3 linked regions of the Homo sapiens genome follow. Changing the gene in region 1 together with any one later gene gives a genetic interaction. Each region holds a gene or a part of one and is shown in the gene's direction. Other genes may lie near its edges.

Evidence for each region. A genetic interaction does not mean that the proteins touch.
Region 2: changes in AFG3L2 (region 1) and PITRM1 together harm fitness more than expected from each alone (negative genetic interaction), as found in Homo sapiens cells (one large-scale study listed by BioGRID).
Region 3: changes in AFG3L2 (region 1) and NDUFB4 together harm fitness more than expected from each alone (negative genetic interaction), as found in Homo sapiens cells (one large-scale study listed by BioGRID).

What each region holds. Positions count from the first base shown.
Region 1 is NC_000018.10:12,374,428-12,378,653, reverse strand, and holds the start of AFG3L2 (mitochondrial inner membrane m-AAA protease component AFG3L2), read left to right. Parts: upstream 1-1,426; 5' UTR 1,427-1,571; coding exon 1,572-1,685; intron 1,686-4,226. UniProt on the Homo sapiens protein: Catalytic component of the m-AAA protease, a protease that plays a key role in proteostasis of inner mitochondrial membrane proteins, and which is essential for axonal and neuron development.
Region 2 is NC_000010.11:3,169,983-3,174,195, reverse strand, and holds the start of PITRM1 (presequence protease, mitochondrial isoform 2 precursor), read left to right. Parts: upstream 1-1,413; 5' UTR 1,414-1,416; coding exon of another isoform or gene 1,417-1,423; coding exon 1,424-1,479; exon of another isoform or gene 1,480-1,982; coding exon of another isoform or gene 1,983-2,014; intron 2,015-3,989; coding exon 3,990-4,092; intron 4,093-4,213. UniProt on the Homo sapiens protein: Metalloendopeptidase of the mitochondrial matrix that functions in peptide cleavage and degradation rather than in protein processing. Has an ATP-independent activity. Specifically cleaves peptides in the range of 5 to 65 residues.
Region 3 is NC_000003.12:120,599,336-120,603,007, forward strand, and holds the end of NDUFB4 (NADH dehydrogenase [ubiquinone] 1 beta subcomplex subunit 4), read left to right. Parts: intron 1-1,775; coding exon 1,776-1,922; coding exon of another isoform or gene 1,923-1,958; exon of another isoform or gene 1,959-2,872; coding exon 2,873-2,935; 3' UTR 2,936-3,172; downstream 3,173-3,672. UniProt on the Homo sapiens protein: Accessory subunit of the mitochondrial membrane respiratory chain NADH dehydrogenase (Complex I), that is believed not to be involved in catalysis. Complex I functions in the transfer of electrons from NADH to the respiratory chain.

The sequences.
Region 1 (4,226 bases):
GATGTTTAGGGTTGTTATGTCCTACTGATGAACTGACCCCTTTATAATAATAATAATAATAATAATAATAATAATAATAATTCTCTTGGCCAGATGTGGGTGGCTCACATCTGTAATCCCAGCACTTTGGGAGGCTGAGTCAGGAGGATTGCTTAAAGCCAGGAGTTTGAGACTAGCCTGGGCAACAAAGTGAGACTTCAACTCTACACAAAATAAAAAAAGTCGAGTGTGGTCGAGCGTGTGTGGTCCCAGCTACTTGGGAGGCTGAGGCAGGAGGATCCCTTGAGCCCAGGAGTTAGAGGCTGCAGTGAGCTACGATTGCACCATGGCATTCCAGCCTAAGTGACAGACTGAGACCCTGTCTCTGGAAAAGAAACCCGATCCTCTTCATCCTTAGTGATATTCTTTTCCCTGCAATTAATTTTCTTTGGAATTTCCTTGCCCTAAAATCTATTTGTCTACTCAGTTTTCTTTTGTGTGAGCATGGTATGATGGTGTATCTGGTATATCTTTTTGTTATTGTTTTACTGCCACTGGGGTAATCACAGGACTCACCTGGTTTTGTCTCCTGTCTCTCAAGGATTACTGTCCTTTGCCTGAGGTCCAGCGTCGCCAGCCTGGGCGACAGAGCGAGAGCCCGTCTCAGAAAAACCCCCAAGTCCCCCACCTCAGTTCAAAGACCTCTCCTTTTTCCTCCGCTGTCACGGTACAGGAAACAATGTGTAGTTTCCACTACCTGGAAGACTCGACTTGCTCTCCGAGAACCAGTTCCCCGACAGGGTTCCTAGAGCGCAGGCTGCACGGCACAGCCCCAACATTCCCTGCTGCTTGTGAATCTTCGCATCGCCCTCCCAGGGGTCAGGAATGTGTGCTTCGGTGTCTCCAGAGCCTAGCACCACCCCATGACTCAGCTGGCGCTCGGAGGGTCCTTCCATCTGCCGCCGCTGGGGCCTTCGCTACTTCCCCCTCGCTCCTACTGGCTGGCCCACCCGGCTGCCCAGGCTCGGAAGCCCAGGATCCCAGTCACGCGTCTCCCCTTAGTCCCCGCCTCCAGCCACGCCCCCCACACCCCTCCGTCGGCCCCGCCTCCAGCTCCTGCTCGCTCTCCTAGTCCTTCCTCGGCCCCACCTCCAGCCACGCCCCCCACGTGCGCCATCAGCCCCGCCCCCAGCTCTCGCTCGCCCTCCCGAGTCCTCCCTCGGCCCGGTCCCCGCCTCTAGCTCCCCCTTGCCCTCCAGGGTCCTTCTCGGCCCCGCCTCCTGCCGCGCCCCCAACGCTGCTCCGTCGGCCCCCGCCTCCGGTCCCGCCCCCATGCTCCTCCCATTTGGTCCTGTCTTCTGCACTGGCGGAGGTCGCGGCGGGCCTCGGAGAGGAGACGCCGACGTCAGCGCGCCGGGGCGGGGCTGGCGGCAGGAGACGCCGCGTTGAGAGCTTGGGCTCCTCCGTGAGCCGCCGGCGCGCTTCGCTGCCTGGCGGCCTTTCCCCGAGCCGAGCCCGCTTCCCGAGGCCGCCAGTCGTCGCCTGCCCGCGCCTGCGCAGCGTCCCGGGCCGAGAGGGCCACGGCGGCGGCCATGGCGCACCGCTGTTTGCGGCTGTGGGGCCGGGGCGGCTGCTGGCCCCGCGGCCTACAGCAGCTCCTCGTGCCTGGCGGCGTGGGCCCGGGCGAGCAGCCCTGCCTCCGGACGGTGAGTCCTACCTGGGCGCCCGGCGCCCTCCACCCTGCCTCGGGCCCACTTCCGGCTCGGGAGAGCGGACGTCAAGGTCACTGGCCCCCGCCCTCCGGCCGCACGCGGGCCGTCCCTGCCGAGGGCCTGGGCGCCCTGCGCTGTCTCTCAGCCGGCCCCGGGAGCGCCGATTCGCGCTCAGCCCTGCCTGTGGGATTCAAGTTTTGAAAACGCGCAGCTTCAGTAGAGCCGGGTTTTCGCGCTTCACCGGGGCGGTTGAAGCCTCGAAGGTCATGTTGGCTTGGTGGCCGTCCTTGTCCCCGCTTTCGTGTCCCCGGAGCACGGAACGAAGGCGTCTGTAATTTTGAGTCAGCAGCACGAGCACGATGTAGTCGCAAGGACGGGTTTTGGAGTCGGGCTGCCTAACCTCTCCGAGTCTCCGTGTTCCCGTCTGTTGAATGGGGCCATTGCGGGCATTCCAGGACTGGCAGTATTAGCTATTATTATTAAGAATGTCACCTTTTCATAGCAGGGACTCTGTGTTCGTTGCATATCAGGGCCTGCTCTCAGCAGGAGGCTCTTTCTCTGTTGGTAGCCATCCCTCTAGATACACACACGGGACCTGATACGTGTTTCTGACATAATGATAGAGTGTTGACAGAACCATGGCCGTGATCAGTCTCAATGAAAGGTTCACGTGTCGAATAGTCGCTCTCACTGTTTAAGTGACACGGTTCCTCAGCCTTGCACTGGTGTACGGGTGGTGGTTGAGGTCCCCGGGTCGGCCACGGGAACCTGGCTTGGCCTCCTGCTATCCCAGCGCCCTTGTAGTCAGCTCAACGTCTTCACTGTAAGGGGAGATAGGCTAGTGCCGGGGCTCACGCCTGCGATCCCAGCACTTAGGGAGGCCGAGGCGGGAGAATCGCTTGACTCCAGGAGTTGGAAACCAGCTTGGGTAGGGTAGCAGACCCTCCGATCTACGATTTTTATTTTTATTTTTATTTTTTAAGAGACGGGGTTTTGCTTCTTCGCCCAGGCCGGAGTGCAGCGGCGCAAACACAGCTCACTGCAGCCCCAAACTCAAGCGATCCTCCCGCCTCAGCCTCCGGAGTATCTGGGACTACAGCACCGTGGTTGATTTTTAAAAAGTTTCTGGAGAGGCCAGGCGCGGTAGCTCACGGCTGTAATCCCAGCAGGCGGGTGGATCACGAGGTCAGAAAATCGAGATCATCCTGGCTAACACGGTGAAACCCCATCTCTACTAAAAATACAAAAAATTAGCCGGGCGTGGTGGCGGGCGCCTGTAGTCCCAGCTGCTCGGGAGACTGAGGCAGGGGAATGGCGTGAACCTGGGCGGTGGAGCTGGCAGTGAGCCAAGAGCGGGCCACTGCACTCTAGCCTGGGCGACAGAGCGAGACTCCGTCCCAAAAGATAGGGTTCACCATCTTGCCCAGTTGCCCAGGCTGGCCTGGAACTCCAGGACCCAGGCGATCCTCCCGCCTCCTCCTCTCAAAGTGTTGGAATTACAGACCTGAGCCACAGCTCCTGGCCTCTACAAATTGTTTTTTTTTTTTTTTTCTTACCTGGGCTCAGTGACTTATGACTATAGTCCCAGCAACTCGGGGGGCCAAGGCGGGTTGCTTGGCGCGGGAGGTTGAGGCTCCAGTGAGTTTTGATTGCATTGCTGTACTCCAGCGTGGGTGACGGACTCTGTCTCCTAAAAAAAAAAAGAGCGGGGGTGGGGAGGGGGAATAATAGTGCCTGCATTCATGATTTTTACTCCTTGAGGCTCCCTTGCCAGTCTTAAATCAATTTCTTCGCCATGGTCACGCCACGCTGCCGTGTGGTAGGTCCTTTTTCGGTTTCCTGTATCCATTTCCCTGTTTTACCAAGCTCTGATCCCTTTTCTTTTCTTTTCTTTTTTTTTTTTTTTTGAGACAGGGTCTCGCTCTGTCGCCCAGACTGGAGTGCAGTGGTGTGATTTTGGGTCACTGCAACCTTCGCCTCCAGGGTTCAAGCAATTCTCCTGCCTCAGCCTCCCGAGTAGCTGGGATTACAGGCGCCCGCCACTACGCCTGGCTAAATTTTGTATTTTTAGTAGAGATGGTGTTTCACCTTGTTGGCCAGGCTGGTCTCAAACTCCTGGCCTCAAGCAATCCATTTGGCCTCCCAAAGTGCTAGTATTACAGACGTGAGCCACCTTGCCCGGCCTGACTGCTTTTCTTTTGCTGCTCATGAATATTGGATTCAGACATACAGTTCCAGGTGGGGATCTGCATTGTGAGTTTGCAGTTTTATGTCAGAAGTGTTACCCAAAGGCTTTCCTTTTGAGTGACACTATTGTCCCTGTATCACTCAGATGCTGATGTATAAGGAAGTCCTCTGTGCTGACAGCTGTAGCTGATTGATTTGCGGAGGGTGTGGGGGTTCGCGGTCCTGATACATACTCTTTGGTACTCTCTGAAGATTTGCCTAGTGACACCTGGGCATTACTGTGCTGTGAGGGAGTCTGATAGGACAGGTTTTCCTTTATGTTCCTGCTACCCTTAAAGATCAGAGACA
Region 2 (4,213 bases), on another chromosome or scaffold:
AATTTTTTTTTTCAGAGCCCATTAGGAGACAGAGGGAGATTTGAGCCTGTTTGTATTCGTGATACAAGGGGAAAAAAAGAGGGAGAAGGTGAAGGGAGGAAGGAAGAGAGGCTCTGAGAAACCCGGAAGGTCAGACTTGGTGCGGACTTCCTCCAAGGGCTACCCCACCCTCTCCAAGCGTGGCTAATCCCAGGGCCCCTTCTGGCCCACAGTGCAGAACCACCCACTCCTACGGGGGCCTCCTTCAGCCTCTCTGGGGGTTCCCAGAAGGGCCCTTGGGCACTTGGGCAATGTCAGGGGGCTCAGGTGCATCTTCCTAGACACGAAACGAAGAGGAAAGCGGAGGCAGCAGCGGGGGCCACAGGCTCCCATGCAGCAGCTCGGAGCTGTGCTGTGCTTCGCTGGCGGCCATCCGTGATACGTGTGACACCGTGGGGCCCTGGCCCTGGGACCTGCCATGCAGCCTTGAGATCTCATCCAAGAAGCCCCCAGACCCCAAGGTTCAGGCCTGGCGGGGCAGCAGAACGCCTTTGGAGCTCAGCTCAGCCCTACAAACAGGACCAACGCCCACACCAAGGCCAGAGAGGGCTACCAAGTTTCACCTGGCCCAGCTTCCGGCAGCCCCCAACCAGGCCACTACCCTCACCTGAACACCGCGGTCCATCACCAAGCCCCACCCACTTCTGCCAGCCCTGCCCCCACAAGGACCCACCTCTCGCATGCAAGCCCCGCCCCCAAGGCCCAGCTCACCTGCAGCCCCGCCCCACCAGGCTCCACCCCATCGCCTGCAAGCCCCATCCCCAAGGCCCAGCTCACTTGCATCCCCGCCCACTAGGCTCCACCCTGTCACCTGCAAGCCCCGCCCCCAAGGCTCAGCTCACTTGCAATCCCCTCTCCCACTGGTCTCCACTCCTCACCTGCAAAGAGCCACCCCTCGCTAAGCCCCTCCCATCACTTGCACAGCCCCACCCAACACAGCACGCCATTCCAGGAGCCCCTCTTTTCACCAGCGCAGCCCCGCCCTTCACCAGGCCCCACTTCATCTGCATACACACGCCTCTCGCCACGCCCCACTTCTCGCCTGCCCACTTCCCCCTCCTATCATCTGTCCACATCCTGCTGCTGGCCGAACCCCGCCCCTTTCGGCAAGACGGCCCCGCCCCTTTCTACCCGTACCACGCCCCTCGCCTTGCCCGCCTCCTTCGGCACGTCGGCCCCGCCCCTCCCGCCCATCTCCGTCCGCACCGCCCTCCCGCCCGTCCCAGAGCAGTGGAGGCCTACCCTTTTCACCTACAGCCTATCGCAGAGGACGTCGCTGTTCGCGTTGACCAATAGGAGTGGTAGCTGTCACGGCAAGCCCCGCCCCGCGCCCTGCGTCGGGTTAAGAGGGGGTTCCTCGCCAGCCAGGTGCTCGTCATGCGCAATGTGGCGCTGCGGCGGGCGGCAGGGCCTGTGTGTGCTGAGGCGGCTGAGCGGCGGGTGAGACGCTGCGACGGGAGGCGCTCGGCGCGCTGGTACCCGGGAGGGGAGGGTCCAGGGCAGGCCGGAGGCGTAGGGGTCCTCGTCCCTGCGCCCGGGGCTGGCAGCTCCCCAAGCTGTGGGCGTCCCGCACCCCGAGCCCTTCCTGGAGCTCCCGCATCCGAGGCTCCGAGGCCGGAGGACCTCGGAGCTCCTTCCTACTCCCAGGGGCGATGCCCCGGGCTGGGGGCCGGGCCTGCCCGCGGCGCTCCCGGCGGGGCCCTCCATTAGCGTGGGCTTTAACGGGGGTAGTAAATGGGGTCGGCATTTGCGGTTCTCGCTGACAGCTTTGCTCCTAGTTCATTTTTGTTGGGAGGCCGAGTCCTTAAGAGACCCGAGGCGCCCACAGCCCATACTTAAAGTCTCGCTGTGTTCAGAGAACTGACGCCTCCCGGAATTGAACTGTTTTGTTTTTTTAATGACTCAATTTATGGGGAAAAAAATGACGAAGCAGTTTAGTGTTCATGGTAATCCACGAGCCCGTGTTTAATATAAGGTAATAGTTCAGCGCTGCCGGCCCAGGCCGGGAGGCACGGGGCGTCCGTGGCATGAGTTCGGCCTGGCCTTACCGCTCAGGAGTTTCCTATCATGTCCTTGATAAGTAACTTCTTAAAACGCTTCTGTCCCATAATTCTGAAATTTGCTAAATCAGTAAGCAAATGTTGGTTATAGCATATCTTCATAATATTGCCAGTGACTGAATAGGTTTTTTCTTCCTGTACATATTATCTTTAAAATAAATATTTCGGTGGGATACATTAATGTAGAAAATCCCATACGACATATAATACAATTGGAGAGAATAATAATTACGTGTTTTTTAAGAGCAGGGATCTTGCTCTGTTTCCCAGGCTGGTTTGATCCCCCTCCTCAGCCTCTCGCATTGCGGGGTTACAGGTGTGAGCCATCTCATTCAGGTGAGAATAATTATTAGAAATAGGTTGGGCGCGGTGGCTCACACCTGTAATCCCAGCATGTTGGGAGGCCAAGGCGGGCAGACCACTTGAGGTCAGGAGTTCAAGACCAGCCTGGCCGACATGGTGAAACTGTCTCTACTAAAAATACAAAAATTAGCTGGGCGTAGTAGTGAGCACTTGTAGTCCCAGCCACTCAGGAGGCTGAGACAGAATTGCTTGAACCCGGGAGGTGGAGGTTGCAGTGAGTCGAGATTGCACCGCTGCACTCCAGCCTGGGCAACAGAGTGAGATCTGTCTCAAAAAAGAAAATTAGTGTCCCTGTGACCAAGTTGAAGATTCCCCTAACTGCTCGTAACTCTCTCCCTCCCTCTTAGATTATCACGGTCATAACATACAGAAATGTCCTTGCTTTTTTTTTTTTTAATATTTTACCATTTTTATGCGTTCTGACAATGTCTTGTTACCTATTTGAATAATACCTGTTTAGGATAATACTGTATCATGTGTATCTTTTGTTTCACGTTATGTGACCCATATCTTTGTTACATGCCACTGTAGGCCCTTATATTGGTAAGGTTTTTTTTTTTTTTTTTTTTTTTTTTTTTTTTTTTTTAATTGAACGATTAGTCCGCACTTTATCCATTCTCTGTCGATACACCTCCGGGTGAGTTGAGTTTGGGACTGTCAGGGTTCGTGCTGACATTTTTGTCTGTGAGTGCTGGGGCCGCAGTGTAAGGTGTGGACGATAGAGACCAAGAGGTGAATGGATTTCCAATCTTCAGCATTTTTTTCTTTTTTTTCCGACAGTCTTGCTCTGTCACCCAGGCTGGAGTGCAGTGGCGTGATCTCGGCCCACTGCAGCCTCCACTTCCCGGGTTCAAGCGATTCTCCTGCCTCAGCCTCCCAAGTATCTGGGACTACAGGCACCTGCCACCACATCAGGCTAATTTTTGGCCAGGCTGGTCTCGAACTCCTGACCTCAGGTGATCCGCCCACCCAGGCCTCCCAAAGTGCTGGGATTACAGACGTAAGCCACCACGCCCGGCCTCTTCAGCCTTTCTAAAGAATGCCAAGTGCTTTTCCAAAGTTATTCCACTTTGTACTCCCTGTAGCAGTGTATGAGAGTTCCCGGTAATATTAGGCTTTTTAAGTTTTCAGCAATTCGGTAGGCATGTAATGGGATTTAACTGTAGTGTGAATTTCTTGGTATACTGTGAAGGCTTTTGAGGATTCTGTGAAGGAAAGAAGCCCTTTTGTTTAAGAGTTGTCTCTTAAACAAGGGGAATTTAAACTGTAATTGTATTATAGTTATTTGTGAACAAGTGTAAAGAAAAGGTTTCCAACATTGAAGCTTTAGTTAAGATAAAGATCATTAAAATGGAAAGGACCTTACCAGAAATCAGTTTTCTGGAATGTGCAAGACTTTGGAAGATGCAATATTTAATTTTTCTTTAATAATCTTTATTACATGAGAGTATTTTCACTATGTGGCTGAATAATGTTAGCCAGATACTTTTCCTGCAACTCATCTAACTTAGATGACTTTTAATCTAGACATGCACACCACAGAGCGTGGCGATGGAACAGTAACCGGGCTTGTGAGAGGGCTCTGCAGTATAAACTAGGAGACAAGATCCATGGATTCACCGTAAACCAGGTATGGGTCGTCCTCGGCACCTCCTTATAAATCCACATACATTGCAGGTGCGGCTTCTGGCCTATGTACGGAGCCCTTCAGGGCGGAGACTAGCGTTTTTGTCCTTGTGTCCCAAGGCCCT
Region 3 (3,672 bases), on another chromosome or scaffold:
TTGGGAATCATCAGCCTTTAGATAGATTATTTAAAGTTATCTGACCAGATGACATCATCAAGGGAGTAAATGTAGATAGGAAAGACCAGCGAGGTCCAATATTAAGAGATTGGGGAGATGAGGAGGAAAAGAGCAAAGAAATGAAGAGAGAATGGCCATAGAGTTAGCAGGAAATCCAAGCAGGTGTGGGCCTGGAAGTCAAGTGAAGACATGATTTTCAGGAGTTTTCACCATGTCAGATGCTACTGAGAGTGCACTGGACTTTTAGTGATGTCAGAGGAGGAAAACTCTCTTCATAGTGTGTCTTTTGGAACCTCTCAATAACATTACCGGGCTTAATGAACTATGGTCATGGGGCAATTGGTATTTTTATGAAATGAAATGTCTGTTTCTGGAAGACAGATCTGGCAGATATTAAAGCACAGAGAGGTGACTAGCAAATTGAGAAGTCTGCCATTTGATAGTCATTCAGATACATTTATAGTAGAAAGGATGTAAGAATAGATGCATTAATCCTTTCAGCTATTGAGCTTTAACATCCCCTTGGACCTAATCTGTGTCTTTACCCTCTTTTTTCTTGTTGGCAGTATAGGCATAATAATAAACAATGCTGCAGAACACTTGCATGTGCTTTCATTTTAATGTGGTGTGATAATGTCAATAGTTTCTAGAACAGCAGAAGATATTTTGGGACTTTGTATCTAGTAGTGAGTGCTTACACCGTTGAGGAATTTCAGTCTGATTAAAAGGAACGGAAGCATTTCCATCATAAGGTTTTTTTTTTTGTTTTTTTTTTTTTTTAAACTTCTGAGCTGCAGCTGATTATCTCAGGGTAAATTGTTGTAATTTAGTTTGAAATATGACTGTGGAAGACCTTGTGAAATTATTTTAGTCCTACAAATCATGACTTCTTGATGTTGGTTAGGACCTTGAATATTCATGTTATATATTAAAGTCTTAAAGCTGATTTTATTTGCTTATTTTTATCTGTCAGTTAATTGGAGAGACTAATTTTGTAAAATCACTTGGGCATTTAGCTAATTAAATTTATGTGTTTGTGGGTAGATTTGCTATTCATGGATAGTTATTCTAGTATAAATATATTAAAATGGACAATTATTTTCTTAAGACAGTCTGATTATTTTTCTTTAACAACTTTGACCTTTCTACAAAACTTCTAATAGTGTGAAATGTCTGAATTAATGCTTTTCACACTAGGTCAGCTTAAAAAACTTACAGTTCAGCTAGCCTACCCCCTCCTTCATCTTCCTACAGCTTATTTGTAGCCTGGAAAGACTATTTTGGTGATAGCATTAGAAAGGGTCCTGGAAACAAAATACAAAGCATGATAGAGCATATGAAATCTGTTTCTCTTCATTGGGAATACTGCATGGTTCTGATGGTCACACTTGACAATGAAGCTAAAAACAGTCCAGAGAAGAATAGATGAAAATGACAAAGGAGAAAAAGTGGCTTCTCTGACAGTTAGATTAGGTTAGATTAGTTAGATTAAGATTAGGATTCTTAAATAAACAGAAAGCTAATTAGTGATATGAGCCTTCTACATTCTGAAGGATTTGAACAAGATCATTAGAATTCAAAAAACACCAGAAATGAAAGATCTTTCCTGAAGCTGTTTAGGAATATTCATGATATACCCTTAACTGTTCTAGAGAACAAAATGCGTCTGTGCTCCTTCACAAAAGTCCCTATGAATTTGTTTCTCAATGTGATCCTTCTTAAGTTCTATAACTTTTTGTTTTCATTAATTTTAGGAAAATCCTGCCTTGCTTCGTTGGGCCTATGCAAGAACAATAAATGTCTATCCTAATTTCAGACCCACTCCTAAAAACTCACTCATGGGAGCTCTGTGTGGATTTGGGCCCCTCATCTTCATTTATTATATTATCAAAACTGAGAGGGTAAGTATTCAGACCAGATGTTTAGTATTTGAGTGATAGGTTCACTTTCTAGGGACCAGCTGCAGCTCCTTCTCTTGAAGATTGCCACCAGTGCCCCTCCCACCTTGGGGCTGTCCTCTGCCTTCCCTTCCTCTCTTCTTTTATCTTTATTCCTTTCCAGCAGGAGTTAAAACAGAAAGTTTTCAGTCACCTTTGTCTATTTTTGTTAGTTCATTTGTTTTTTAAAAAGATGATGTTTATTGGGTTAAGTATTAGCAGAATACATAAATCATTTAGTACGTTTCCTGTTTGCGTGAATTCTATTTATGTTGGTCACATTTTGCAAATTAATGTTAAAACCTATTAATACTCTACGGACAGAGAAGCACAAGCTGCCTGTGTGGGGAATAGCTGCCGTCAGCAGCCTGGGTATATGATTGGAGAGAAAGTCAAGCTGATCTTTGGCACCAAACCATTCCACATCTGGTACTAAACCCTGAGCTGCAGCCCCCAGGCTTGTGTTGCCACTGGAGCCCACTCGTCTAGCTTTGTCTTTAACTGGCCCATCTGCATTCCCATTAGAGTTCGTGTATTTTGATTATCTGGTGAATGATCTACTTAACAGAAAGGTAGTCCACATTTTCCCAGAAAGTGTTTGCATTTTGCTTTCAATATATGGTTTTATGGGATAATATATTTCTAATGACTAAAATGTGAGTAAGATGTTTTTGAATAGGAGCATTTTCTTACTGTGTCTTTAGTTCCTCGGATTACTGTTTCTTCGCACACTCCCTGGGCTTTAGACAGTGGGATTGCAATTAGGTTTGGAGTGTTTCATTCTGTTTGTCAGTTGTACGGTGGGTTGTGCCAAAATGCAGTTTTTCTTACCTTTTTTATTTATTTATTTTTATCTAATATAGCCAACTGGCAGAATATATTGTCTTTAATGTACTTTTTTTCTGTCTTTACAGGATAGGAAAGAAAAACTTATCCAGGAAGGAAAATTGGATCGAACATTTCACCTCTCATATTAAGTCTGGCAATGATGACTATATGTATTCCTGCCTAAATAAATCATCTATTAATCATTAAGTAGTAGTTTCTCTTTCTTAGTATTACCTTGATTCAATGTTAAAAACTATTAACACCCTAACAACACAGAAGCAGACGCAGCCCGTGTTGGGAATCTGCTGTCAGAGTGACAGCAAACATTTGCTGTACATTGAATGAATGAACATAAACTTCATTAAACTGTGAGCTCTTAGAAAGTACAGATTCTACAATCAGTTGTTCAACAAGCGAGTGTTAACTACGAGCCAGGCATTATGTTATGTGCAGAGAATACAACAGTCAGTAAGACAGAGCCTGTTCTTAAGGAGTACGTACTCTGACAGCTGTTTATTGAACAATTATTTGAGTGCTTACTACCGTCTGGTACTATTTAATACCTAAGCCCTTGTCTGGCCCCAGCTGCAGTGGTAAATACAGCCAAACTAACACCAATGTAAAAAATACAATCGAGATTCAGGAAAATGATGTAGGCAAGCTGATGAGAAGCAGTTCTACCTGAGGAATTTAGGGAGGTGGCATTTGATCTAGGCTCTGAAGTTCACAAGGCTGACAGGACAAAACAGGAGCATGAAGGGGCAAGGTGTGTTGGGTATGGCTGGATTGTGGGCTACTGTGGGGTGAGGAGATGGAGCATGGAGGTCATGCTGAGGAGCAGAAATATAATGGTTAGGGGCGTGACCTTTGGAGGTCAAATCTGGGC